7 separate regions of the Homo sapiens genome follow, and regions 1, 2, 3, 4, 6 and 7 are each linked to region 5. Evidence: fine-mapped expression QTL. A gene starts in region 5. Each other region holds a variant in brackets. All regions are shown on one strand. Distances are from middle to middle. Region 1 overlaps ZNF831 (zinc finger protein 831). Region 2 has its middle 56 kb from the start of ZNF831. Region 3 overlaps ZNF831 (zinc finger protein 831). Region 4 overlaps ZNF831 (zinc finger protein 831). Region 5 holds the start of ZNF831 (zinc finger protein 831). Region 6 overlaps ZNF831 (zinc finger protein 831). Region 7 has its middle 29 kb from the start of ZNF831.

Evidence for each region. PIP is the estimated chance that this variant, and not a neighbour inherited with it, causes the effect.
Region 1: its variant is fine-mapped to the expression of ZNF831 in whole blood (TOPMed, PIP 0.98).
Region 2: its variant is fine-mapped to the expression of ZNF831 in whole blood (TOPMed, PIP above 0.99).
Region 3: its variant is fine-mapped to the expression of ZNF831 in whole blood (TOPMed, PIP above 0.99).
Region 4: its variant is fine-mapped to the expression of ZNF831 in whole blood (Lepik 2017, PIP 0.92).
Region 6: its variant is fine-mapped to the expression of ZNF831 in whole blood (TOPMed, PIP 0.98).
Region 7: its variant is fine-mapped to the expression of ZNF831 in whole blood (TOPMed, PIP above 0.99).

What each region holds. Positions count from the first base shown.
Region 1 is chr20:59,256,616-59,260,684 of GRCh38, reverse strand. ZNF831 (zinc finger protein 831) reads right to left here. Exons shown (of 6, transcript NM_178457.3): 6 at 1,572-4,069. Among named protein-coding and RNA genes, the nearest start is that of EDN3, 42 kb to the left of the region's middle. The variant AATAAT/T (reference allele first, on the strand shown) is at 1,605.
Region 2 is chr20:59,105,346-59,109,414 of GRCh38, reverse strand. No RefSeq gene overlaps it. Among named protein-coding and RNA genes, the nearest start is that of ZNF831, 56 kb to the left of the region's middle. RefSeq lists an enhancer at 2,851-3,352. The variant A/G (reference allele first, on the strand shown) is at 1,660.
Region 3 is chr20:59,184,245-59,188,313 of GRCh38, reverse strand. The region is part of intron 1 of ZNF831 (zinc finger protein 831); the gene reads right to left. Among named protein-coding and RNA genes, the nearest start is that of ZNF831, 22 kb to the right of the region's middle. The variant G/A (reference allele first, on the strand shown) is at 1,861.
Region 4 is chr20:59,249,109-59,253,177 of GRCh38, reverse strand. ZNF831 (zinc finger protein 831) reads right to left here. Exons shown (of 6, transcript NM_178457.3): 5 at 40-200. Among named protein-coding and RNA genes, the nearest start is that of EDN3, 49 kb to the left of the region's middle. The variant T/C (reference allele first, on the strand shown) is at 2,263.
Region 5 is chr20:59,161,376-59,165,444 of GRCh38, reverse strand. ZNF831 (zinc finger protein 831) reads right to left here and starts at 1,624. Exons shown (of 6, transcript NM_178457.3): 1 at 1,238-1,624.
Region 6 is chr20:59,201,034-59,205,102 of GRCh38, reverse strand. The region is part of intron 3 of ZNF831 (zinc finger protein 831); the gene reads right to left. Among named protein-coding and RNA genes, the nearest start is that of ZNF831, 39 kb to the right of the region's middle. The variant G/A (reference allele first, on the strand shown) is at 2,264.
Region 7 is chr20:59,132,314-59,136,382 of GRCh38, reverse strand. It overlaps a transcript of ZNF831 not described here. Among named protein-coding and RNA genes, the nearest start is that of ZNF831, 29 kb to the left of the region's middle. The variant G/A (reference allele first, on the strand shown) is at 1,673.

The DNA.
Region 1 (4,069 bases), 95 kb before region 5:
TTCTGGGCTGAAATGGCCATGGACTAATCCCAAGATGCTCAATGGTAGAGGCTGTTGAATTTGCCTCTGGCAGAAACTGAAGGAAACTGAAGGCAGACTGTGTCTGTCACCGCTGGAAACAAAGGTCACAGATGCCACTGAGCAATTCTTTCTGCATACACAGCCCAAAGATCAACAAGCTGACACTAAGGAGACTTAAAAAGTTGCTCTCTGTGGTTCTTAGTACAGCCAAATCCATTTCCCTCACATTTAGAAGTATGGAAGCAGTTATTTCAGCAGAACTTATGTCGGTGCTTCTGGTTGGGCATGAATTCCTAACTATGCATTCCTATACATCATTCTGTACTCACCGACTAATCAGCCAACACTCAAAACACCAAAACAAACAAACAAACAAAAAACATATTTATGCAACAAAACATTATGTGATTATTCCTTTGAGACCAAAATCCTTTGATTTGAAATGTCAGTTATTTAACTCTACAGTTTGACCAAAGAAACTTACCCAATAATCCCACAATTCTGTTTGTGGTCACCAGTTCTATTGTCTTGGAGAAAAAATGGAGACAGAGCTCTGCTTCATAGAAGCCAGAATAACTAGAAAACCTAACAGCAAACATACTGTTTAGGTTAGCTCGATGTTTCCCCAAGTGCACTGGGTAGACCACTGGTAATATGAAGATGGTATTTAACTGGCACATGAACAATTTTTAATAGTTTTACTACATTTAATGCATATTTGAAAATATACTTAACTCGAAAATTCAACAAGTTTTCATAGACATTATTGCTTAGGGCAATAATTGCTTCTTTAACACAGAGATAATTTAAATAAAAGTATTAAGTAAAAAATATACCCACATGTGGCATCTTGATACATATGGCAAAAAGCATTAAGATGGTTCTCAAATGACTGAAGTTTGGAACAAATAGATTAATTATAATAACGGCGATTACAGTTTGATGAGTTTGGGGAAAAAAGCTATTAACTGCCATCAATTAGTATACCTGTTCCTTCCATATCCTCGATCCCACTTTTCCCTCCAATGAATTGTGCCCCACTGACTTCAAGTGTCTTCAAGAGGTATGTAAATAGACTAATAACATTGTGTTGGGCTGTAAAAGTAAGTCTACTTATTCTTGCAAGGAGTACATAAATCACCTTCATAAGAAGCTATGATTTTGATTTAAGGATGTTTTCTCTGTTAATGAATAATGCTAAATGTCCAGAAAACATCAAATCCAAGGGGAAAAGATTCTGGATTATTGCACTGTGGTTCGTGCCCTCCTGTGGCTTCAGAGTTTCGCTACATTTAAGAATCTAAAACCAGATTCCTAAGTTACAGACTATAAAATATGGCAGATAATGACAAACGAGCTATGTGTGAAAAGGAAGCACCACAAGAAAGTGAGATCATTTGACATGACCTAATCCCTTTGTTGAGTGGAATGGGATACCAATACGGCCAACGAGGCATTGGGTCAATGATTAGGAATAATCAGATGTCCAATTCATAAAGCATATGATTTGCAGGGGTTTTGGTTAAAATGTTAACAAATCACGTGAGACATTTGCATTTTAAGTTTTATTTTTATCAAAACAA[AATAAT/T]TTAACCATATAAAGAAAGAAAGTTCAACAAACAACCAAGAAGCCAATCATTTCCCTGATTGTGAACAACCAATTGAGTAGTAAATCCTGAACAGTTGACCGCATATACAAGACATTCCGTCATCCTCTAGTGCTCCAAGTGGCAGAGGCTGATGTTTTTCCCTGGTTCCTATTCTTCCAGTGGTGAAGTAATGTGCTCAACTGTTCCTATACTTCTTCAGACCAAATTATGTATATTCCTACGTAAGTGCAAAGCATGGATGAAAAGAATCATACAGGGTAGAAATCCAGCACATAAGATTTTCTAGGTTCTGACCCTTATATTTAATGGGTTCTGAAAAATAAGGACAATAAATTGTGCTTAAATATTGAGAAATGTAGTGTTTCAAAAGCCAAAGTGCCTCCCTACATGAACTATGGGAAGAACAACTGAAGTGAGGAAAAATACACAAGCCCAGCTTGCTGCAGCAGTAGAAATATGATCACCCATAGAGCCAGGCAGGTCATATTCTCCTCACCATATTAAATTATGTCTGGGGAGTTGAGCAGCAGCACATTCCGATAATGATGACAGTTTCCATAACTATAAAGATCTGCTGCACCAGGCAAATTCTGTGCAAAATGCAAATTTCTGTGCTGGGGAAAAAAATGAATAATGTGATCATTCTAAGTAATGAATGTAAATGCAAGGAAATACTTTTTGGCATGAGACTGCAAATTGTTTATCTTTCATGCCAAGAACTGTGGTCACAGTGCACTTCTGCAAGGTTCCTCTTCCGGTCTCAGCTTTAGAAGAGTGATTTCAGGAAGAAAAAGTCTGTCTTGCCCTAGGTTACCCACCATGCTATTGGCAGTGTTTCCATTAAAATTCAGAGACACCCTCCTCCATCTTTTTTTTTAATCACTTGGCAAATGAACCATAGGTTCTCCTGGTTACTGTGAGATGTGAACCAAAGGGGATTATTAGCTTTGTCTCAAATCTCAAGGGTTAAGCCTAACAGGAGAGATGAGCTGTTTTTCAATGTGTTTTACAAGAAGGAGGATTCCAGTTGTCCACCAAAAATCACATGACTTTGAGTCACTTAACAATGTAGGTTGCCAAGGAGGGAAGGATTGAAACCTCTTCCCTCCATACATCTTTAACGACAAGATCTAGCTGGGTGTAGGTACAGGTGGAGAGAGAAACCTGGTGAGTCTTGAACATCATGGGGAAATGTCACTTTTGATATTGGCAAAAAAAAATTCAGTGCCCTTCCCTTAGTTCATGACAGCATCCCTCTAACTATTCTCTGTGGAAGAAACTGAGGCATCAGTTGGTTAAGACCCTTACCTAAAGATATAATAAAATTAACACTGGGAAAATTAGCACTGGGGAAAGAAGGAAATCCCTGATCTTTAAACTCTGGTTTGCTTTGTTCTAAAATAAATTTGTTTTTCCTTAACCATCATGCAGTACACACTTGCAGAGTATAAAACTGTGGTAGTTATCAATTGATAATACTGACATTTTATTTTTAGTAACCCAAACTGGGTTCTAGGTTGTTAATGTTACCCTTAAAATGTATTCTTATAATTGTATTTCACTTTAAGAAAACCCATAGGAAAATTAAGATTTATAAAATCAGAGATTGTTCATTGCTTTATAAAAAGATTCTTCATTTAAAAAAAATCTTTACCTTAGGATGCTTTTAAAGAGCCAGCTCCCTTAGGGTCATTCAAAATACATTTTTAATTTTTAAAAAATCCATTGACATACAGCTTTTTCACAAATTCATGTTGATATAAAGTAAGGTACACTTGTAAACATTGCCAGCCACTAGGCAAAGACCAGGGAAGCAAGGTGGCTTCGCTACCTGCTTTACCTTTGTAAGAGATACAGGGAGTTAGAGACGAAATCAATATTCCGCCATATTTGACCTAGGTTGGGATGTGACAGCTGGCAACGGTGGCTCCTATAGGGACAGAGCTTCCACCATCATCCTGAAGTTGGTGCTGTTTGGAGCTATGACTTACTGATTTACAGCCAGTGACCCCGTTGATTCCACAGTAGCCACCCAGAAAGGAGGGGTCTGGAAGACAGCTTTTTTCCCCTGACCAGTGCCTCCTAAGACAAAGGAGCCAGTTCAGCCTACAGATAGGTTTTCTCCATTCCTACTGGAGAGTTCTGGTTTTGCTTTTAATTTTTTGAACTATGAGCCACATGTATAGGCTGGATGATTGCACCCTAAAATCTGGAACTCTGGGGAAAAAATTAGATGGAGCTTCTTCAGGCTCAGGTTCTTCACAGCAATAATTGGTGGAAGGTGCTTGTGTTTCAGTTCCTCACTGTCCCCACCCAAACTTCTTGCATGCAAGGCCTCCGTGGCAATGGTTCCCCATGGGGAATATCTTCAAGCCATTGAGTCCATGCATTTTAAGGAGAGAGCAGCTTCTCTATCAACCATTCTCAGAAAAATTGGA
Region 2 (4,069 bases), 56 kb after region 5:
ATGCTGGCCCAAGCCAAAGGAAAACGTGTTTCCATTGGTTCGCATGATCCTGCAAAATGCCTCTAGGGCTTTGAGCAGGGCCTTTGGAGCCTTCAAGGTCACCACACAATCAAGAAGCCACCATGGGCACAGCAGTGTCCCAGGCTCAACAGTGCAACAAGAATATAGTCATTCATACAGGGAAAGGGTCTTGTTGATTGAATCCCCAACGTCAGGTGACCCCTAAGTAATTAGTCCAAGCCAGGCCTTACCAGCAACTGGTTGACAAAAGGACATGTGACCTAGCCTGACATGGCTGGGGAAGTCTGGGAAATATCCCCTCTACAAATGCTTATCTGAAATGGAAGCTGCCATCTTGCTTCCTGACCGAAGTTGAAGCTAACACATCCTGGAGGGCATGAGCAAAGCTAAGGCCCTAACTCCGAAGCCTGGAGCTGACCCACCTATGGACTTCCTGTTGGCCAAGAAGATAAATTCCCTTACAATTTCAGCCAATTTAAGGATTTCTGTTACTTAAAGTCAGGGGTCAGGGAGAGGAACAAAGTAAGAGTTCCCTGCCCTCTGACACACGAGGAATTCAGACAAGGAAGCAGGCAACTACCATTTAGCTACTATGCTGTGAAGGAGGGGATGCTTTCAGTGCTCACAAGCTAAGCTGAAACCTTATAAAGAGACAGTTAATTTCCTAGCCATTCGCCTTGATATCTATGTTTGGTTGGATAGTGCCCCTCCAAAATTCATGTTCTTCCTGGAACCTCAGAATGTGACCTTATTTGGAAAGAGGGTTATTGCAGATGTAATTAGTTAAGGTTACATAGAAGTAGGGGAGGCCCTAATCTAATATGATTTGCATCCTTATCAGAAGAGAAGATACAAGACACACAGGGGAGAGGGTCAGGTGCCAATGGAGGCAGAGATTGGAGTGGCACAGCCGTAAGCACAGGAGCAGCAGGTGTTGCTGGCAGCCTCCAGCAGCTGGGAGACAGGTCTGGAGCAGACCCTTCCCCACAGCCTTCAGAGGGAGCACAGCCCTGCCTACACCTTGATTTCAGACTTCCAGCCTCCAGAACTGCAAAGGAAACCATTTCCGTTGTTCTAAGCCTCCCAGTTTGTGGCCATTTGTTAGGGATGCCCTGGGAAATGAATACAGCTCCTTCTTTAACAGACCACATTTTTTTAAAGAAAAACTGATACATTTAATCATAATTTAAAATATCAATCCTTCAAAAGACATCAGTAAGAAAATGAATAGGCAAGTCATAGACTCATAGAAAATGTCTATACTATACCTGTCTGATTCAGGAACAATTAAGGGATTATTATGAATTTGTAATAAAAAGACAGCCCAATAAAAATAGGTAAATGTCTCGAACAGAACCTTCACAAAAGGAAGTACATGAATGGTCAAAAAGTACATCAAAATGTGCTCAACATCATTAGGTTACAGGAAAATAAAAATTAAAACCACAGTGTTATACAATTTTATAGACACTAGAGTGAATACAATTTTAAAAATTGACAGCACTGGCTGGGCATGGAGGCTCATGCCTGTAATCCCAGCACTTTGGGAGGCCAAGGCAGGCGGATCACTTGAGGCCATGAGTTCGACACCAGCCTAACCAACATGATGAAACCCCATCTCCACTAAAAAATACAAAA[A/G]TTAGCCAGGCATGGGGGCGCACGCCTATCATCCGAACTACTCGGGAGGCTGAAGCGGGAGAATCACTGGAACCCGGGAGGCAGAGGTTGTAGTGAGCCAGGATTGTGCCACTGCACGCCTGCCTGGGCGACAGAGCGAGAGTCTGTCTCAAAAAAAAAAAAAAAAAAAAAATGACAGCAGTAAATACTGGCTAAGATGTGGGCCAAGTACACCTCCCACATATTGCTGGTGGGGATGTAAAATAACACAACCATGTTGGGAGAACTCTTCTGGATATATTGTGAGGCAAAGACAAGCAAGATGGAGAAAAGGATGTACAATATGCTCCATTTATTTTTTAAAAGGTAGTAAAGTCATAAAAATCTATTTTACAAAATGCCATGAATGGGACATGAGAAGCTCCACTTCTCTGAATATACTTTGCAGAACCATATTTAGAGTAATGGGAGGAAGAAAGGACTATGTGCTCAGCTGAAAAAGGAAAAACTACATTTCCCAGCTCTCCCTGCAGAGCTGTGCCACAGTTCTGGCAGATGAGAGGTAAGCAGCAGCGGCCAGGTGGATGGACCTCAAGGTAACCTCCTTAAAAGACGCTTGTGGTCCTTGCGGGTTTGCCCCCTACCTTTCCTCTTCTTCCTGCCTGAGTCCAAAACTTGATGGTTGGAGCCGCAGCGGACATCTTGCAACACAGAAAGGCGGGGGAAAGGTCAGGAATGTTGCAAAGCCCTTGGACCAGGTGTCTGCACACCATCCTCAACTGTCTACCCTCAGACTTCTTTTTGCGAGAGAAAAAAGTCAACCCCTATCTTGCTGAAGTTTCTCCTATTTGGATCTTCTGTGACACGCAATCAGCTGAGTCCCTAACAGACACCCACCCGACAGATGAGTAAGAGTCACGTCAATGACCAGAGAAGAGAACATGTCTTGGGCAGAAGATGCTGTGTGTGCAGAGTCCCAGATTCAGACAGTAGCCTGATGCATTCGACCAAGGTGTTCAGATGGTGGCACAGGATGGAAAAGACATGTTGAAGAGGGATGAGAGCCAGAGAGGACAGCAAGGATCAGACAGGGGAGGGTGGGATAGTCACTGGCAGGGCCCTAACTCTTCAACTGGGAGGCTCAGCGCTCTCCAGCCAACCGCCATGCCTTTCTTCATCCCAGGGCAGGGAGAATCCAGAACCAAGATTCCACATTTGCCCATTGTGGTTTTGTCCTTAATGGTAAGCATGGGAACTTTCAAAGCAGAAGCTGGATCCCTGTTTTGTGAATTGAGTTGAATTATGGTGTAGAAGGAATTATGATGTAGAATGTGGCTCTAGGGTTTGAACTCAAGGAAAACATCCTCCTCTTCAGAATAAGGGATGGGTGGGGGGCTGATCTTACCTCCTAAGAAGTCAAATGCATCACTGAGGTATCCCTGTTGACCTGCAGATAAAAAGAAGCTCACTGCAATTAGGGCAATTAGGGAATTGAGCTGCTAGACAAAGAGAGTGAATATTCTGGGCCACAGCAAATTCACCTTAGACCTGAAATCTGATCTCGCTGTCTCTGAGGTTTCCAAGCGGTAACTTGGCTCCCTCACCCTGCTCAGTCTGATCCTCAAAACCCCAGGAAAATAACAATAACCAAAAAGGGAGGAAAAAAATAAACGAAGAAACAAATCAAATGAAACTATAACAGGTTTGTGATAAGATCCAGAGAGAAGCTGAGGCCAGGAGAGAGCAAAAGCCCTTAACAAATCATAAATGGCCAGCTGCTCTTGATAAGCCAGCCATCCAAGAAGCCATGTCCATCCACCAGTTTCGAGTTCTCAGCTCTCCAAAAATTAAATCTCTGCACCAAACCTATATCCTGGCAGCCACAAGTGTGGGCCAAAGGACATCCACCTTCACCCAGTTGGGATCACGTGGCTAAGTCAAGAGGCCTGCCAAGAGCTGTGCATGGAAGGACAGGATCACAGGAATGGCCAGAGCCATGATGCCCCGGGGAAGAATGCTGGAGAACTCTAGGGCTTTCCACATCAGAGAGTCCCCTGGGAAGGGCAGTGGGAGGCTGGTGAGAGAAGAATGAACCTTCCCTCCCCTAAGCACTTTCCAACGCAAGGGCAGCCCCAGCCTGCTGTTTTCCCAGTGAGCTTTGCTGCCTTTTTATTTCATTATAATAGCCTCCTGAAGAAAACACATACAAATATAATGCTCTTGGTTAGGACTGAGTTAGACATTATCCTGCAGAATATTATAATAAAGGCAGGGATTATTTATATGCTAAAGAAAAGTTCAAAATTATTATATTCATCACCGCAGGTAACTTCGGTAAGACATGATTGGCAGGTTGGTTTCATTTTTCATCAAGACCAAGTGGATGTTGCAGAAAGGAGAGGCTGCTGCCCTGTAACAGAAAGGCACAAGA
Region 3 (4,069 bases), 23 kb before region 5:
AATAACAAGTGTTGGTGAGGATGTGGAGAATTTAGAACCCATAAACACGACTGGTGGGGATATAAAATGATGCAGCCACTTTAAAAACAACTGGGTAGTTCCTCAAAAAGTTAAACATGTATTACCATAGGATCCAGCAATTCTACGTCTAGGTATATACCCCAAAGAATTGAAAACAGGTATTCAAACAAAAATTTGTACGTGCATGTTCACAGTAGCTTTATTCAAAATAGTCAAAAGAGAGAAATGACAGAAATGTCCATCAGCTGATGAGTGGATAGACAAACGGCAATATACAGTACCGTAGAATCGTAATCAGCCATAAAAAGCAACAAAGTGCTTGCACATGCTACAACATGGATGCACCTTGAAAACGTCATGCTGCATGAAAGAAGCCAGACACAAAATATCACGTGTTTTATAATTGCATTTGTATGAAGAAACTGGAATAGACAAACTCACGGAAACAGAAAACAAATTATAGTGGTTGCCAGAGGAGGGGGAGAATGGGGAATGAGGCTTTAACTGGGTACAACGTTTCCTTCTGGGGTGATGAAAATGTTCTGGAACCAGACAGAGGTGGTAGTTTGTAAAACTATGAATGTACTAAGTGCCATAGAATTGTTCACTTTCAAATAGTTAAAATGGTGAATTTAATGTTATGTGAATTTTACCTCAATTGTAAACAGGTACTGTCTCAATTTTTTTTTTAAAGTATTGTCTTCATTGAGCAAAGGTACTCAATTTTTTAAAAGTACTTTGGGCTGCTATAACAAAAATACCCTAGATTGGGTGGCTTAAATGACAAATATTTATTTCACACAGCTCTGGAGACGGGAAGTTCAAGATCAAGTTTAAGTCCAAGACAGGTTCAGTGCCTGGTGAGGGCCTGCATCCTGGTACCTAGATGGCCGTCTTCTTGCTGCCCCCTCACATCACGGAAAGACCAGTGGAGCTCTCTGGGGTCCCCTTTATAAGGCACTCATTCCACTCATGAGGGCTCCACGTCATGACCTGACCACCTCCCAAAGGACCCACCTCCTAATACCATCACATGGGGAGTGAGGATTTTACATGTAGATTTGGAGCTGGGGGGAAGAAACATCCAGTTCACACCAGCTCCTACATACTCAGAGCTCACCACTGCTAAGGATTCTATGGCATCTTCCATTCTCAGGGATCTTGGGGCCATTTATGTGGGATGTGCTGGTGTGGTGGGAACGCTTCCTGGCAGTGTGGAACGTCACACCTCTGGCTCTTCCCAACCTCAGCATCAGTAGCATCATGTTCACAGCTTGAACTGGCCACAGTGGAAGCACTGACACCACAAAAATCAGCAAATGCTACAAGTCAGTCCTTTTTTTTTTTTTTCATCCTGAAAGCCAGTCTCAACATTTACCAGCACATCACTGAGCAGAAGGGAGGACCCAGAAGACCATTGCACCCACTCTCTGTCCCTCTCCTAAACCTCTGGTCTCATTATGAACCTCACCACACTAGGCCATCTGCAAGAGCCCCTGGCTTCAAAACAATCTGAGACGTTCTAATTGTTTAAGGAAAGATGTAAAGGCAGGAATCTTTAGAGATTAACAGGTAGCTGCCAGAACGGATAAGAGCTAATAGGAATGGAAGATAAAGGCTTACCTCAAGACGCTGCAACCTTTCTACTAGCTGAGAATTTCAGGAACCTCCCCAGGAGACCAGTAGGCCTGAATTTCTGTCTCTGCTTAACCATCTTGCTAGAGGGTGGCCCTGAGACTGTTTCCTCATCTCTAAGAACAGTGGCATTGGGGCAGAGCCACCAGGAGGTTCAGATGAAATAAGTTATGTGAAAACACCAAGTGCTGTGCCCAGCACAGA[G/A]TAAGCGCTCCATTTATTTCAGTTTTCAATTATACGCCATAATATTTTGAACTATTAACTACCGGTTCCTCCCCCACCCTGTCTTCCTCCTACCCTTGTCTCTTCCCCCATCCGTCAGCTCAGCAGTCTCCATGCATCGCCTCTAGCAAGGGATGCTGTCTCGGGGTGGGTTCCTGAGAAAAGGATTCCATTCCCAAGTATTTTATTTGGGAGGTGATCCCAGGAAACACTTGTAAGGAAATGGGAAGGCTGGGGGTGAAGGAGGCTACAAAATGTCCAGCAAGTCCCCACTGTGGGTGACTGGAGCTTAATCCCACTGGGGGACACCAGGAGATCATGTAGAACATGCACCCCAGGGGCAAGTGAGCTGCCTGCATCGGGACTGCCTGTGGGAGCAGCCATGTCCTGGCATTTCCAGCTGCACGCATGAATGCACGGGGTAGGCTCTGTGGCCACAGGGAGCCATCAGACACAGAAGCACTGCCTGCAGTTGGCTCTTAAATGCTGAGTCGGAGAATAGGTGAGCAGGGCTTCTGTCTTCCTGTGGCAGAAACTCAGTAAAGGCGTTTTAATTCCAAAAGCCCCAAACCCTAAGGAAACTGGATGAGTACAAGCCTCCTGTCCTGATCCCCCGGTTATAATGGTCATGGGTGGGGAGGTCACGGAAGGGAGGAAGGGAGAAATAAGTCCGTCCAGCTCCTGCCTCAGTGGCAATTCCTGCTCCATTCCCCAGGGCAGTCTGGAAAGAGGGGTGCCAGGACACAGAGCATCAACAGCCCGGAGTGTGCGTCCAGGCAGGAGGACGAGGCACACGCAGAGCTCTCGCTGCAGGACGAATTTCAGAGCACCCAGAAAGGCCCTGAAGTGACTGGGAAAATGGGGCCAAATTGAGGGGGTTGTCACCCGAGGGGTGTCTCAGTGGGGGCCTGCCTGGGGAGCTGAGGGCTGAGTATCATGTGCCCCCCAAAAACTTTAGCCCAACCTGGGGGTAGGGGGAGGAGGAAAAGGAGCCCAGAACTGACTCTCATAGGGTGGGAGGCTTGGGGCTTCAAAGTAGAAATGCCAGGAAAAGAGCGCTATGTTTCCGACACACCTGCCACGATGATCATTTTGTGCTCTCTGCAGCCTGTTCTGTGATCACTGCGAAATTGACGCCTTTGAGTAACAGCTGATCCCTGCTGGCAAGATGACAGCTGACTAACACCTTCCTCGAGGGAGATGACGCTTTTCTCAGGAAAACCTCAAAAAGCTGCAGATAATTTTGCTCACTCTGAATCAAGGAGATGGCAAGTCCTATTGTCCCCATTGGACTGATGGGGAAGCTGGGGGCCGGGGCTGGGAAAGCAGCTCGCTAGAAGGCTTACCTCTTTGAGCGAGGGAAGGGTCCGGGACAGCCCCTTGGTCACCTGGACTGAATGCCAAGCCCTCACCCTGTTGCCATCCCCAGGCTCCCACACGCAGGGAACTTGGCGCATCCCTCATCTGCCGCGTGTGCAGCTCCCCACCTCCTCCCAATTCCCCCCCACAAACAGTTATATCTTTTGGCGCAAATGTGCAGCTTTATGGAGGAGAGGGGAACAAAGAGGTGGGAGAAACTTGAAGAGAAGAAGTGACAATTTCCCAAGCCCTCCTTTGCAAAAGCAAACCACAAATGAGCCTGGGCAAAGAGAGAACATGAAAATGCCATAAGTAGGTTTTTAGAATTTACATTTAGGGCCCCGAAAGAGAAGGCCATGGAGAAGCATATTGGATACGTTTAGCAGATAGAACTTGGGTACTAAGATGGCTGGTGTAGTTACAAGTTTCCCAAACTTCCGTTCATCCTGGACCACCATCACCCACTCCGCCACGTATGGGGACCACTTACGCTGTTACTCAGTCCCCACCCTACCTGTGTAGAGCCTCATGCCTAGAACACCATTGCTTTAAAAGGGATGCATGCAATGTGAATGCACTTCATGCCACTGAACTGTATGCTTCACAATGGTGAAAGTGTTATATTTTATGTATGTTGTATCGCAATTTTCAGAAAGTAAAAAAAAAGGGGGGAGGGAGGAAGAGGAACTATATCATTGCCCAGTGAGTTGAAAACTGACATTCACACAAAAACCTGCACACTGATGTAAACATCAGCATTGTAATTGCAAAAACCTGGACGTGAGCAAGATGTCCTTCAGTAAACATCAGTAAACACACATCCAGACAATGG
Region 4 (4,069 bases), 88 kb before region 5:
CAGGAATAGGTAGAGGCAGCTCAAAATCATCATGCCCACCTTCACAGTTCGTTTGTCCATTTCCCTGACAATTCTTGAACTTGTACCAAGAGAGAGGGTTCCTAAGGTTTGTCTGCAGTCACCTTCCTTCTTCTCTTCCTTCCCACAACAAGGAGGTGATTCTGAGGTGGCACAAGATGGCTCCTCTTGCAGATTCAGACCTGCAAGGGGAGAGGCACATTTACATATGACTGGAATTATAAAATTAGCAAAGAGTAATTTCCTGGGAGGTTGTCCATGACTTCTTGATCGCCTCTGAGCTCATTAACCCTCATCTCACAGGGTGTGTGCAAGAACTCAATTTATCTCCAACCAATTCACATTTGGTCAAATAAAATATATCCACTCTATGAAGGAAGGAAATGGCAAAACCAATTCTCAAAGTAGAAAAACCCCTGAATGATACATATCATAAAATATATCTATATTTCATGTTGCTTCTTCTCATCAGAGTTGTATTCCTGGTCATGTCTGTTTAGGTAAATTTTAGATCAGCTTGAATTCTCTGACATACTACCAAGTAGTCAGAATAGACGTTTCACTCGATGCATGGTGGGAACCCAGAAATATAAACCAGGTCTTAATTCCCACTAGAGTGCTGGGCAGCAAGGGATGAGGTTGGCTTTTGTGATGCTGTTGTTTTGTTGTGGTGGTTATTGTTGTGATTGTGGAAGGAAAGAAGGGCCCTGACAATATCCACAAAACAGCACTTCTCATACCTGTCTTTCCTTCATCCTTCACCCGCACTGATGACCTGGCATACCAGTCAAAAGGATCACAAAATTTCAGAGAGGGCAGGTTCCATCATGATATGAGATCAGAGAAATATCTTAAAACGACTGTGTCACTAGAGAAGAAGCACTAGACCCACTTTTAAATTTGCTTTTATTTTGATGAAAGGTACACATGTGCAGTCTGAAAAGTCAAGCCTAACTGTGTATTAAGAAAAACTGCAACCCCTGCCAACCCATCCATCTTTTCCCATTCGGGAGTCTTTTGACTTTTAGCTCCTTCATGTCTGATAACATTGTTATAGAACTACATTTTGTGGAAGTAGTAGCTGTGACTTCTCATGGGGAGAGAGGAGGGTTTCCCTCTTCTTCCAGCTCTCCTCCTCTTCAAACTTCATGACCCCCCACACAAGCACACATTCCACCTCTCTATCTTCTCAACAGTTCTCTAACCCCTATGGCCTGTTTTCATTTAGGCGAATATTCCATGTTTATATTAGTATGTTTAGGAGAATACCTGTCAGCACTGAATCTTGTAGTATACTACGATTACGTTGCCTTTCTTGTGAAAACTGCTTTCCCTGGGATTAATGACGATTTTGCTTTTTAAAAATTTTGCTGAGTTTTCTATGGACTCATTTCTAAAATCATTTTCCAACCACCTCTCCAATTGTCTGAGGTTTCATTTCATTCTGTGAGAAATGTTTCCTTGAAACTTTCTGATTTGCTCCAAGTGGACCATGTTTCTCTGCAGCATGGCTGTGCCCCTGGGGTCTCCCTTCATCCCCGCTGTGCTGATTCTCTTCGCCTCTTTCCTGGTTCCTGAACCTCTACAACTTCTTTTTTCTTGGTTTACACTCCTGCTTTCCTAACACAAAACTTCTAGTAGTTTCATGAGAAAGGGTACATGAAGTATAACTCTTTAGATGTCATTGGCAGCTTGGCTGGGTATGACATTCAAAATCGGAAATCATTTCCCTTTGGGGTTGCAGACACGGCTCTATTGCGTTCCAGTTGTTGAAAAGTCTGGAGACAATATGATTTATGATTCATGGTCCTTTGGATGAAATCTTTTTGTATGTCGTTCTCTGGAATCCCCGAGGCTCTTCTTTATTTCTGGTGTCACCACAGCCTGGGTCGATCTTCATTCATTGGCTGGGCACTCAATCAATTCTTTCAATCTGAATCATGTCCTCAGGTTTTAGAAAAATGTGGTTCTGTTTTTCTTTTTTCCTTTTCCTTCCTCATGTACAATGCATTGTTTTGAAATATACACACATTGTAGGTTGGCTAAATTAGATTATTAATAACATATGTATTAGCCCATAGGCTTATCTTTTTTTGGCAAGAACACTTATACTCTCAGCAATTTTTAAGAATACAAAACATTGTCATTAACTATAGTTACCATGTTGTACAATATAACTCTTGAACTTACCTGTTATTTCTGATTTTTTTTCCCTTCTGTTTTGTCTTCTCTCTCTTTCTAGAA[T/C]TGCCCTTATTGGGTTATTGGATCTCCTAGTATAATCTTCTATTTTTCTTATCTTTTCGCTGTGATGTTCTGTTTCTTGGTCTTTTTGCTTCACTTTTGGGGGAATTTCCTCAACTTTATATTCCAATGAGTTTCTATTTCTGCTATTATGCTTTTAATTTCTAAGAGTTCTTTCCCATGTTCTTTTTTTATAGCATCCTGTTCTTACTTCATAGCTCTAACATCCTCTCTTTTACCCCCGGCAATGTTAATAATGGGTTGTTGTTGTTGTCGTTGTTGAAGTTTGCCTCCCCCTACATAGTCCCTCTTCCAAGTTCCTTTGTTTCCATTGGTTTGTTTTTATTTCTCTCTTTAGGTTGGTGGCTTTCCTGAGAAATACAGCAATCTTCGCTGCTTATGTTTAGGAAATGGGCACAAAAAAGCTGACTTGGTGTTCTTTACAAGTGCAATCTGTCAACCATGGGCCCTACTGTTAGGTTATGTGGTTGCCCTGTTTCAGTGGGAACCCTGAAGTAGTTATCTGCAGGTCTCCACGTGTACTGGTCAGCTTCTACAAGAAGAGTCCTCGGGTCTCCTGACTGGAAAATAGAAGCCAGGCTGCCGGCATTCTGGAGTCAAAATTAGAGAAGAGATTCTGGGGGCTCATATGCAGTATTCACATTTGCTCAAACCCCATTTTCAATCTAGTCCCCTCACTCCCCTGCTGAACTAATTATGCCAAGTGTCCCCCAGCATTTTGTATGCTGTCCAGAGACTAAGCCCCTAGTCTTCTCCAAGGGTGAGGGAAGTTACCAAGCTCTGAGAAGTAGAAACGGAGTGGGAATGAAGTCTGATTGCTTCTTAGTCTTTCAATCAATCTTGTTTTCAGCCACACCTGGTACCATGAATGTCTGAGTTGTGGGGAGTCTTCTCACTGTTAAATCAGGATTCCATTCCTTGGGGTCAGCTACATCAGTTCCCATTCAGACTCTGCACTCCAGTTTTCAAACTGGTGGCATCATTTCTTCTCCAAGTCGTTTCTCCTTGTGAGCTTATATATTAAAAACACCTTTAATTACTAACCTCTTGTTGGTTGTTAGAGAAAAGCTGAGGTAAATAAATGTGTTCCATCCTCCATCTTAAACCAAAAGAACAGTTCCACTTCTTATATCTCAAGGGGTAAGTTACTAGATTACCAAGTGTGCTAATCCTGAGCAAATCAACTTTGAAAATCCGTAGAGAAGTGCACAGTTTGGGAAAGATAGCAATGCTTTTTTCTTCCACACAATCTTTCTTGACCCTCCCGTGTACTCAGGTAATCTAATGGCACAGAACCAGGCTTTTGGTACTCCATTCACCTGTTCAACAACCACATCCTGGGCCCCTTCAATGACCCAGGCACCATGCTCCACCTTGAAGAGTCTGAGAAGAACAAAACAAAGGTGACGCTGGCCCTCAAGAGCTTCTACTGTAATGGGGAAAGAGAAGCAAAGACAAGGAAGCAGACGCCTATTGTGATGGGGTCGCAAAGGAAATAAATCGAGGACGGGGATATTACCGAGAGTGAAAATGAGAGTATTACAGGCAGTAACAATTAACAGGAGGCTATTCCAGACACTAATGAGAAATGGAGGGGAGCATACTACAGACTCATGATAAGCAGGGGGTAGTAAAGAGAGTAATGAGGGGGCTTAATCCAAAGAGTAGCCAGGGAGGACTGTTTTATATAGTCAAGGAAGACTTCTCAGAAAGGCGACATCAGAAATGAGACCTTCAGAGTGAGAAAGAACAAGTCCACAAAGGATATTCTAGACAAAAGAAGGAACAA
Region 5 (4,069 bases):
AGTGGGGCTCATGTTCATTTGTTCAAAGGATTGGATAAAACCATAGATGTGATTTGTCCAGACGTGGTAGACTCTCCCTGTGTCTGTTCCTGCCCCACTCCCCTAACCAAACAGCCTACCCTACCTCCCTTTTACAGTCTTGGTTCTCTGCTTACATGATGTTCATGGTCTCTACCAGGAGAAAAGTCTCTCTAGCTGGTAACTCCACGGCGCCTGATAGTGAGCCCATTTCCCCTAGGCAGGTGCTTTTGGGTAACCCTGCTCACATGGCACTCCTCCTTCAGGACCAACCCTCCCCAGCTTCCCAGCGGAAGCACAGCTAAGGAAGCAAATCTCACAGACCCCAACATTGCCACAGAACCTAAGTGTTCTCTCTGATTAATATTAGCCTATGGTCCTAAATACTTGCTCTTAGCTGGGGCAATAAAGCGAGGGTGGTTAAAAGGCATATTATTTTAAACTGGCCCTGACGTTGATTCTGTTTTTCCCAGTCAGCTAATGTTACCATTTTTCTAAGTTGCATCCTGTCCCTCGTTGCATTTTGGTAGATAACATCTCTGGTTTCATTCTTACAGAAAGATTTGCTACGGGAAAGGAGAAACACGTTACCTCTCAGAGCATGGCTTCCATGGCTGATCTGAGATAGCCTCCAGCTCTTTGCTATTTTGGATACTGGGAAGTCAGATATGTGTATAAATACATGGACTATTGGCCCTTGTAAATCTCATTGAAAAATGCTACCCTTGGGTGGCTGATCAGTAGAATTGCTATAAATAGTAGCTCTATCAAATACCTTGATATTTCAATTATATTATATACAAATAAAAAACTTGGCCTAATAAAACATACATATATATGTGTATATATATACCACACATACTTGGGCTAATATGTTCTAACCAATTCACACTTTCAGTTTAATTAGGTTCATCACTGGGAAAAAAAACAGTTTATAAAGCAATAAATTTTCTTATAAATGTTTTTCTGTTTAGTAGAACATGGATTGTGGACCTGGTTTCTGACAGCCATTTTGAATTGTAGTAAATATTTTGACAAAAGCAACAGCAGTATTAAGCACATGAGAGAATTACTTGAACTGGGTCACACACAGTTTTACGTAGCATTTTCCCTTTAACTGCGTGCTTGAAGATAAATATATCATTAAGAACATAGAGTAAAAGAGTTTTTTTTTAACTGACATTTTATATATGCTTATGTCATGGAGCATGTTACATACCTTTATAAACAGTGGAGTGTTTTCAGCCAATGATGCTCTGATTCAAACACAATGATCTGGTTGCCCAGAGAAGACACCCACAGGTCCAGAAAGGACCACTGGGCTGGCCCCACAGAGAAGAGATGAGCTCAAGAGCCCGTGCTCTCACTCTCTGTAGGGAGCTCGCTACTCTTTGCTGAGAGGGCATTTTAGTGTTCTCTCCCAGTTCCTACTCTGCAGGCAGCATCTCAGAGAACGGAGAGATGCTCCCTGAGCCTTAGAAAATAAAATAAAATAAAAGAGGGCAGCCTCCTGTGGCTTGGCCTTTATGTCAAGTCCACGTTTAACTGAGAAAAGCACCATTTCAAGCAACCTGGAAGAGACTCAAGCAGAGATAAAACTTGGTATGGCCCAGAAATAGGAAGTAAATTATTTCCTATACATTACCTAACGTCACGGTAGCAACCCTTAGAAAACAGGAAGAGATAGAAGCAGACACGAAAAAAAAAAAAAAAGAGCCACCGCTCAGCTCTTTAGTAATTGTTACTATTGACCTAACAACCTATAAAGAGCTTGCTGCCCAGAAATGTAGGTGTGCAAAAAAACATTGCATTAGAGATGAGGTTGTTCTGTGCAGGCAAGTTTAAGAATTAGAGCCTAGGTGGTCGTTTTCCTGGAGATGTGGATGGAACAAGTGTTTGCAGAACCTCCACATGTAACCCCAGAGGTTCCTGAGGGCCCAGAATGAGCATTTCCACTGCAATTGACTATGGTGGGAGGTCCCAGTGAAAGATTTCTGCGATGCTGTCTTTATGTAAAATGGTGATATTTTGTTCAACATGGATTTGTTTGAATTAGGTTTTATTTTTAAGATATGGCACTGATCACTCTATTCAACATAGTACTGAAAATCCTAGCCAGAGCAATCAGGCAAGAGAAAGAAATAAAAGGCATCCAAATAGGAAAAGAGGAAGTCAAGTTATCTCTCTTCACTGATGATATGATTCTATATCTAGAAAACCCTAAAGTTGCCACCAAAAGACTCCTAGACCCAATGAATGACTTCAGTAGTTTAAGGATACAAAAATCAATGTACAAAAATCAGTAGCATTTCTATACACCAGTAATGTTCAAGCCGAGAGCCAAATCAAGAACACAATCCCATTTACAATAGCAACACACACACACACACACACACACACACACACACACACCTAGGAATACATCTAACCAAGGAGGTGAAAGATCTCTACAAGGAGAACTACAAAATACTACTGAAAGAAAACAAACAAATGATAAAACACTCCATGCTCATGGATTATAAGACTCAATATCATTAAAATGTCCATACTGCTCAAAGCAATTCAACACTATTCCTATCAAATTACCAATGTCATTTTTCACAGAATTAGAAAAAAACTATTCCAGAATTCATATGGAACCAAAAAGGAGCCCGAATAGCCAAAGCAATCCTAAGCAAAAATAACAAAGCCAGAGGCATCACATTATCTGACTTCAAACTATACTACAAGGCCACAATAACCAACACAGCATGGTATTGGTATAAAAATAGACACACAGACCAATGGAACAGAATAGAGAACCCAGAAATAAAGCTGCACACCTAAAACCAACTGATTTTCAACAAAGTCAACAAAAATAAACAGTGAAAGAAAGGACCCCCTATTCAATAAATGGTGCTGGGGAAACTAGCTAACCATATGCAGAAGAATGTTGAATAGAGTGATTAGTGCCACTCTAATTCCAGAATGAAACTGGACTCTTACCTCTCAATATATACAAAAATTAACCCAAAATGAATTAAATACTTAAATGTAAGACTTCAAACTATAAAAATCCTACAAGAAAACCAAGGAAATACTCTTCTGAATGTCAGCCTAGACAAAGAATTTAAGACTAAGTCCTCAAAAGCAAATGCAACAAAAATAAATATTGACAACTGGTACCTAATTAAACCAAAGTGTTTCTATGTAGCAAAAGAAATAATCAACAATGTAAACAGACAACCTATGGAATGGGAGAAACGATTTGCAAACTATGCAGCCAACAGAGGTCTAATATTCAGAATCTATAAGGAACTTAAACAAACAACAACAAAACCATTAAAAAGTGAGCAAAGGTCATGAAGAGACACTTCTCAAAAGAAGACATGCAAGCAGCCAACAAGCATATTTTAAAAATGCTCATCATCTCTGATTATCAGAGAAATGCAAATCAAAACCACAATGAGATACCATCTCACAGCAGTCAGAATGGCTATGACTAAAAAGTCAAAAAATAACAGATGTTGGTGAGGTTGCAGAAAAAAAAGGGAACACTCACACATTGTTGGTGGGAATGTAAATTAGTTCAACCCCTGTGGAAAACAGTTTGGATATTTCTTAAAGGACTAAAAGTAGAACTACCATTCGACCCAGCAATCTCATTACTGGGTATCTACCCAAAGGAAGATAAATCATTCTACCAAAAAGACACCTGCACTCGTATGTTTATCACAGCACTATTCACAAATAGCAAAGGCATGGAATCAACCTGGGTGCCTGTCAACGGTAGACTGGATGAAGAAAAAGTGGCATATATACACCACGGAATATACAAAGCCATAAAAATAATAAAATCATGTATCCATGCAGCAACATGTAATCCCATGCCTGTAATCCCAGCACTTTGGGAGGCCAAGGCAGGCGGATCACTTGAGGCCAGGAGTTTGAGACTAGCCTGGCCAACATGGTGAAACCCCATTTCTACTAAAAATACAAAAAATTAGCCGGGTGTGGTGGTGCACACCTGTAGTCCCAGGTACTCAGGAGGCTGAGGCAGGATAATAGCTTG
Region 6 (4,069 bases), 40 kb before region 5:
ACTTTCAGAAAATTAGCAAGCGGGGGTCTTTCTCCTCACGCAAAATAACAAGGAGAGAGCTAGGAAAGGCCCCGCCTCTGAATTCGCACTTCATCAAGGTGGAATTTCAAACTTTTTGCCTTCGAGAACAGCCCAAGTGGACCTTGGCAATGTCTTCAAAGGACTGTTTAGTTTAGTCATGGGCAGGGTACGTTTCTCTCTCTCCTGGTTCTCCCAAAACGTTCTGTGTGCAGCCCCTCCTGGAGAAGCAGCATCCTGGCTTAGGAAGGTTTTGCAAGCTCATCTCCATCACCAGCCATGCAAGTCCCCTCAAGGTGTGGCCAGTGCTGTTGGGGCCCCATCCAGGACACTTTCGTCAGGCTGCACCTCCGCACCCGGCTGTGAGGGTGATACACTCGTCACCCCCTTGCCACCTTTGTCAGGCTCTCTCAGGGAAGGACAGTAGACCCAAGGAGTGGCTCTTGCAGGTGTACACAGCCCACTCCACACACATTCCTTTCTGGGGCGAAACTATGAGATCTGACGTGCTATTTCCCTCACTTTCCTCTCTTGACCCCACAGAGAAGAACAAAGCAAAGAGAAGAGCAGTGGAGGTGTGGATGGCAGAGCCTCTGTATCCTGCTAAGCAGGACCTGGGACTGCTGTCAAAGCTCTGGGGCTGTGGCCAACGTGACAAAGAGTCTCAGCCACATGTGGTGGGGGTCACATGCAGCAGAGGCCACGTGGACTCAGGGCCACATCTGTAGGTCTTTGTCTTTACCTCACTGCAGAGATTGTGCTCTCATTACTGAGAGTGCTATCTCATTGAATAAGTAAATTGTGTGATGACTAAAGTGAATAGACACATGGCTTAGACAGATAAACATCCGCTCCATAAGGAAAAACACTATCTGCTAATAGAATTGCATTCTCAAAGCCCAGGATTTTTTTCTTCTCCACTCTCCCCTTCAACGACTAATGTATATTTTAGGGTTTTATAGAGTGCCCTTCTCCCATACAACCTGCAATCTTCTCCTCGCTCATTTCCATTCACTTGGGGCTTCACAATTCATTGTTCCATTTGTTGGAAGCTTCCTAGGAACAAGTCTCTGAATGTTTCATGCTTCATACAGCACAGTACACAGTTATAAATTAATCAATAAAATCTAATTCCATGATCCCGCGCTTGCTTTGGGCAAGGCAGGGAGGTATTTTGTGAGTGCTCCGGATCTCTATGCCTCTAGTTAATGTCAGGGCAATTAGGCTTCTGAGTATGAATTTTCTGCGTTTTTCCATTTCCACTCTGGAAGTGGATCCTGCATTTTCTAATCTCTCTTCTTTAACTCATGTAGTTTTGTTAATGAAAACAACCATTTTCATTACAGTGTGGTATTTGCAGTTGGCAAAAAACATAGAGATGAATGAAAGCAGAATGAAAGGCCCTGAAAAAAACTTCAAGTATAAACGGGAAGCTAAAATTTAACATGTAAGTGGGCAAAAGTGGATTAATGCAGGGGTCTGCTTGATTTTTATGCAAAGGTCCAGCTAATAAATATTTTAGACTTTGTATGCCACAGACAATCTGTGCCACGTATTCTTCTTCTGTTTTTATATGGATAAGCTTTTAAAAATATAAAAACCAAGCCAGGCATGGTGGTGCATGCCTGTACTCCCAGCTACTCCAGAAGCTGAGGCAGGAAGACCACTGAGGCCAGGAGTGTGAGGCTGTGGTGTGCTATGATCACACCTGTGAATAGCCACTGCCCTGCAGCCTGGGCAACATAGTGAGACCCTGTCGATCAAATATATATGTATATAAATAATGCGTTGCTCATGGTTAAAATAAGTTAAAAACCATATTTAACCCGTGGTCCATAGTTGTCTTTATAAACAAAAATAAAAATAAATCCTTCTATATATATGAATTCATACAAGAAGAAAACATAAGATAACATATCTGCATATTTTTGAAAGTAGGAAATTGAGAGTAAAGAAAGATTTCTTAGATATACCAAAAAGTCATGAAAAGACAGCCCCATTTGACTACATCAAAATTTACAAATTCTTAATGAAAAAACCATCATTATCAAGGTTAAAAAATAAGAACTCCATTTCCAACAGCACAGTGGACTCAATACTCTGACTGATTACCACCAAATTTATCCTTATACTGAAAACAATTAAAAATGCAGCGTAAAATGTAAACATTTTTTAAACTTATATTTAAATTTACGTATGTTCTGATTAAAAGATAAGAAATAGTTCAAAGGCAAAAACCAAGTGA[G/A]AGCTGCGCCCTGGAAAAGTGAGATTGCTTTCACTTTGAGGAATCTGCCAAACCAGATGAGGATGACCTTCCTATTTTCATGCTCTGGTGCAGCTGAGGGTACAGGACTCAAAGCCCAGAATGTTCTTCAGTGAGAGGCACATGGAAGACCCAACCTCCTTTCCTGCATAAAGCTGAGACCTCTGAAAGGCATACTCTCAGTATGTGGGTGAATTAGAAATAAATACTCCCTACCCCACCACCTGCCCGGGGAACATAACAACAAACAAACGAGCACCCCCAGGCACCCAGTGGAAGCAAAACAAATATTTATTGGAGGAATCCACCTTCAACCCACATCTCAAAGTTCCAAAAATATCAACTCACAGTCAAAAATTTTAACACAAACAAGGAAATAAGTTAACATATGTGAGAGCAAATATATAAAACAGAGTCAGATGTGCCAAGACTTCATAGGTTGTCATTGTCAGATGCAAAACATTAGATGTGTTTTTTTTTTTAAAAAAAAAAAAAAAGGTTGAAAATAAGAGTCAAGTGCAAGAGACTATAAAATGATCAAGCAAATTAAAAAAATAATTAAATAAAACTTTTTGGAAATAAAATATAATTCACATCAACAATTGAACTTAAACTTTAGCAGACCAATAAAAGTAGGGGAGATCAACTAGGAGGCACTGCAATAGGCCAGGGACTTCTGACCAAGACTTTGCAAAAGTAACCAGATTTACCATCCCAAGTAAAAAACTGAATAAAGATACAAAACAATAGTGTTCAGGGCATTGGACATTGAGCAATAAAGGCAGTGATCCATGAAAGAAGAGAAACAGATGAGGTAAGCCTGATGACACCTCAACTTATTGATGGAGAAATTTTCCAGGTCTGGAACCATTTGTTGAAAAGACTATACTTTTTCCGCTGAATTTCCTTTGAGCCTGTATGAAAAATCAATTGACCACAGCATGGTCTATTTCTGTATTCTCTATTTTGCTCCATTGATCTTTGTATCCATTTTGATGCAAAAACCACACTCTTTGGAATACTTTAGCTTTATAATAAGTCTCAGAGTCAAGCGGCGTAATCAAGTCAGTGTGGTATTTGCATTGAAATAGACAAATAGATCAACAAATGATGCTGGAACAACTAGATAAGATATCCACACACAAAAATAAGAACTTCGATCCATACATCACACCATATGTAAACACTAAGTGAAAATGAATTATAGACCTAAATATAAAACTTAAAAGTATAAAACTTTAGAGAAAAATTTAGAAGAAAAGCTTTGAAGCTCTGTTTAGACACACTTTTTTAAACTATGACACTAAAAACATAACAAAAAAAGGTAAATTAAATATCATCAAAGTGAAAGACAGTTGCTTTTTAAAAGATGCTACTAAAAGAATAGAAAGATAAGCCATAGATTGAAAGAAAATAGTTACAAATCACATCTCCGATAAGGAACTTATAATCAGAGTATATTAAAAAAATTCTCAAAACTCAATAAGAAAACAACCCATTTTTGATGCGCAAAAGATTTGAAGAGACACTTCGCCAGAGAAGATATACAAATGCTAAATAAGCACACAAAAAAAGATGCTGAATATCATCACTTGTTAGGGAAATGCAAATTCAAGCTATAAAGAGATACCACTACATAACTATTCAAATGACTAAAACTAAAAAAAATTACCATACCAAGTGTTGGCAATAATGTAGAGAAATGGAACTCTCATACTCTGATAGTGGAGATGTAAAATAATACAACCACTTTGGAAAACAATTTGGCAGCTTCTTTAAAAGTTAATA
Region 7 (4,069 bases), 29 kb after region 5:
ACTTTGCAGATGGAATTAAGGTTACAAATTAGCTCACTTTAAGATAGGAAAAATACTCTCAATTATAAAGTTGGGGCTGAAGTAATCACATGAACCCTTAAAAGCAGAAGAGAAAGGCAGGGCAATGAAGCAGCAGCAGAGGGTAGGAGATGAGGCAGGAGGGGAAGGAAGAGAGACTCGAAGCATGAGAAGGACTTGACAGCCTATGCTGGCCTTGAAGGGGGCCATGAGCCAAGGAATGAGGCAGCCTCTAGACCTTGACAATGTATTCAGTCCACAGTTAGTAAGAAAACAGGGACCTCAGTCCCCCAACCACGTGGAATTCAATTCTGATGACAAGCTGAATAAGCTTGGAAGTGGATTCTTCCCCAGGGCTTCCAGTAAGGAACACAGCCTACTGACTTTTTTTGAGACAGGGTCTTGCTCCGTTGCCCAAGCTGAAGTGCAGTGGTGCCATCATGGATCACTGCAGCCTCAAATTCCTGGGTTCAAGCAATCCTCCCACCTCAGCCTCCCAAGTATTGGGTTGGTGCAAAAGTAACTGTGGCCACTGAAAGTCATGGCAAAAACCGCAATTACTTTTGCACCAACCTAATAACTGGGATCACAGGCATGCACCATCATGCCTGGATTATTATTATTATTTTTTTTTGAGATGGAGTCTCGCTCTGTCACCCAGGCTGGAGTGCAGTGGCACAGTCTCGGCTCACTGCCAGCTCCGCCCCCCGGGTTCACACCATTCTCCTGCCTCAGCCTCCTGAGTAGCTGGGACTACAGGCACCCGCCACCACGCCTGGCTAATTTTTTGTATTTTTAGTAGAGACAGGGTTTCATCACGTTAGCCAGGATGGTCTCGATCTCTTGACCTCATGATCTGCCCGCCTCGGCCTCCCAAAGTGCTGGGATTACAGGCGTGAGCCACTGCGCCCAGCTGCCTGGATTTTTTTTTTATTATTTTGTGTAGAGATGGAGGCTTACTATGTTGCCAAGGCTGATCTCAAACTGCTGGGCTCAAGTGATCCTCCCAATCTCGCCTCCAAAGTGCTGGGATTCCAGGCATGAGTTGCCACACCCAGCTCTGCCAACTTCTTGATTTTACCTTTGTAAGACTCAGAGCAGGGAACCAGCTGAGACATGCTATTCCTGGACCTCTGACAAACAGATTGTGAGATAATAAATGGGTGTTGCTTCAAGCTGCTAAATTTGTAGTAATTTTCTACAGCAACAGTAGAACATGAGCCCAGTGATCTTGTGTGAGTCCCTTCTCTGTGGCTTATTTTCCTTATGGGTCAACAAGAATAATAATAGTCGTTATTCCTTAGAGCTACCGAGAGGCTGAAAGAGGACTGCTGGGGTAGCTGGTGTAGAGGAACCAGTAATCAATGTTCCTGCTGCCATGCAGATGGTTTTTTTTCCATCTTGGAGGGGAAGGGGCCAGTGGAGGTGGATACCTGTCATGCATGGTATTCCTCAATCCTCACCACAACCCTCTAAGCCAGGTGCTTTCATTAGTCTCATTTATAAGAGGAACCTGAGGCACAAAGAGATCGAATGACTTCCCCAAGATTGTACGGTTAGTAAGAAGCAAAGTTGAGATTCCACCCCAACCCATGTGGCTCCAGGGCTCTGTGAGGAAGACTACAGACGCTCCCATCCCAGATGAGCACAGAGA[G/A]GTTGGGAACAGAAGGACCACGCAGCCAGTCTATGGGGAGCCAAGCATGTGAGAACAGTGTCTTGAGCCAAGACGACAATAAACACATGCCTTCTGGCTTGGCCCATGGTGGGACCGCTGGGTTTCTCTTGTCCTTCTCAGGTCTCTGAGAGGTCCAGTATCTCACCTGTAGCTTCTCAGAGTAGACTAAAGAGAAAGCCCACAGTTTCCATCTGCTTAAAGGTCAAGAGAGAAAAGCGGATAAAGAAAGACCCATGCAGCTGTTTTCCCTTCAGTCTCCTTGTTCCTCATTTATTCAGCAATCAATGACGTTCTACATGTCAGGCACTGTCCTTGGTGCTGGGTGACAGTGATGAGCAGGATGGCACAGTCCCCATAAGGAAATACAGACAAGAGACAAGAAAATAACCGAACAAGGACACAAGATCACCGTGGATAGAGGGACTGCTTTGGGCCTGGGTTCTGCTACTTCGAGTCCTCTTTGGTAGGGAGGGAGAGCAGGAGGGGAGCAGGGGATCTGCTGGCTGCTACAGCCACTGCTTTCTGTCCACCATTCAGCAAGATTCTGGGCATGATAGTCCACATTAGAGGGTTCTGGGGTGGTCCTCAATGCCACTGAGAAGCCAGCAGGAAGCTGACCCAGAAACATGCCCAAGACATCTGCTGGGAACCAAGGAGGAGCATCTGAGCTGTGAGGTGTTCCCATATCAGGGCCCCAAAGAGCAGCAGCCCCACCATGGGCCAAGCCCAGAAGGCATGTGCTTATCATCGTCTTATCCCACGGCACTGCTGACCAGTGACCTGCACTTGATGGCAATGATGCGCTCTTCTCTGGGACCTGAGAGTGAGCAGCATGGAAGTCAAGTAGGGCCTAAAGGAGCAGAGAGCCAGGGGGAGGCATGCACTCTTGCTCCAGGGCTCGTCCTTGCCGCTGAGCTGCCTCCCTTCTCTGAGTGTCTGTTTCCAAGCTGGAAAATGACAGAATGCAGGGAGATGAGCTCTTGAGTCTCTGACCCCTGGACTCCAGCATGTGCTTCTTCCTCACTTGGTCAACCAGCCTTTATCTGCTGCTTGTTGTGTCCCCAGCCCTACACCCATAACCCAAAATCCATGCTTTCTATTCCCTTTTCCTCCTTGGCAACTGTCAAATTGAGGCACACACGGGGCCACTTGTTCTGCCCATGGGCAGGGCCATCTGGTTCTGCATGGAGATGCCTATGGACAGACCTGCATTCATATACATTGCTTTAAATTATCACAAAAATTGAGTTTGGATAAGAACTTGACGGGGGAGGTGTGTTTTCCTACTGGAAAAACAAGCATAGCAACTGCCCAAAGTGATCCTATGGACGTCATGCAGGACCAGAGCATAGCAACTGCCCAAAGTGATCCTACGGACGTCATGCAGGACCAGAGCATAGCAACTGCCCAAAGTGATCCTATGGACGTCATGCAGGACCGGAGCATAGCAACTGCCCAAAGTGATCCTACGGACGTCATGCAGGACCGGAGCATAGCAACTGCCCAAAGTGATCCTACGGACGTCATGCAGGACCGGAGCATAGCAACTGCCCAAAGTGATCCTACGGACGTCATGCAGGACCAGAGCATAGCAACTGCCCAAAGTGATCCTACGGACGTCATGCAGGACCGGAGCATAGCAACTGCCCAAAGTGATCCTACGGACGTCATGCAGGACCGGAGCATAGCAACTGCCCAAAGTGATCCTACGGACGTCATGCAGGACCAGAGGTTGAACATACCCTAACAGGTCAGTTGAGAAGCTTCCAGCTGTGGTCAGCAGTGTAATGGGCCACTGTCAGGCCTTGGGAGCCTCAGCAGAGTGGAGCCTCAGCCCAGCTGGCTCTTGGCACAGCTCACCCGGGCCAGCAAGGCTGGAGAAGCGGCCTTCAGCCCTGACCAGCTCACCTTCTTCCAGCTGAGGGGTGCTTGAGATGAAGTTGAAAGTTTGCTGAGGATTCAAGTTAATTCACCAGTGTAGCAATCTGGTGATTACAAAAAAGTATGAAAAAGACAAGGTGCCCAATTGAAAAAAAAATAGGCAAAGACATTTCCAGAAGCCATGCCAATGTCCAAGGAGCCTATGAAGAGATACTTCACCTCTCTGATCATCAAAAGAAAAGCAGGTGAAGATGAGATGTCATTTTTTATCCACCAGACTGAGAAGAAGGTGAGATATTGCCAAAGCTGGGCTTGGCAAGGCTGCAGGGAAGAGGCCTCCTCCAGCCCTGTTGATGGGCATGTGAAATAGTAAACTTTCTGGAGACCAGCTTGGCAATATGGGCACAGCGATTAATCGTCTAGAAAATTTTTCCTGACAACATAATCAAACACATTCACTATAGGCATATACAAGACAGTTTACTGAAGTCAGAC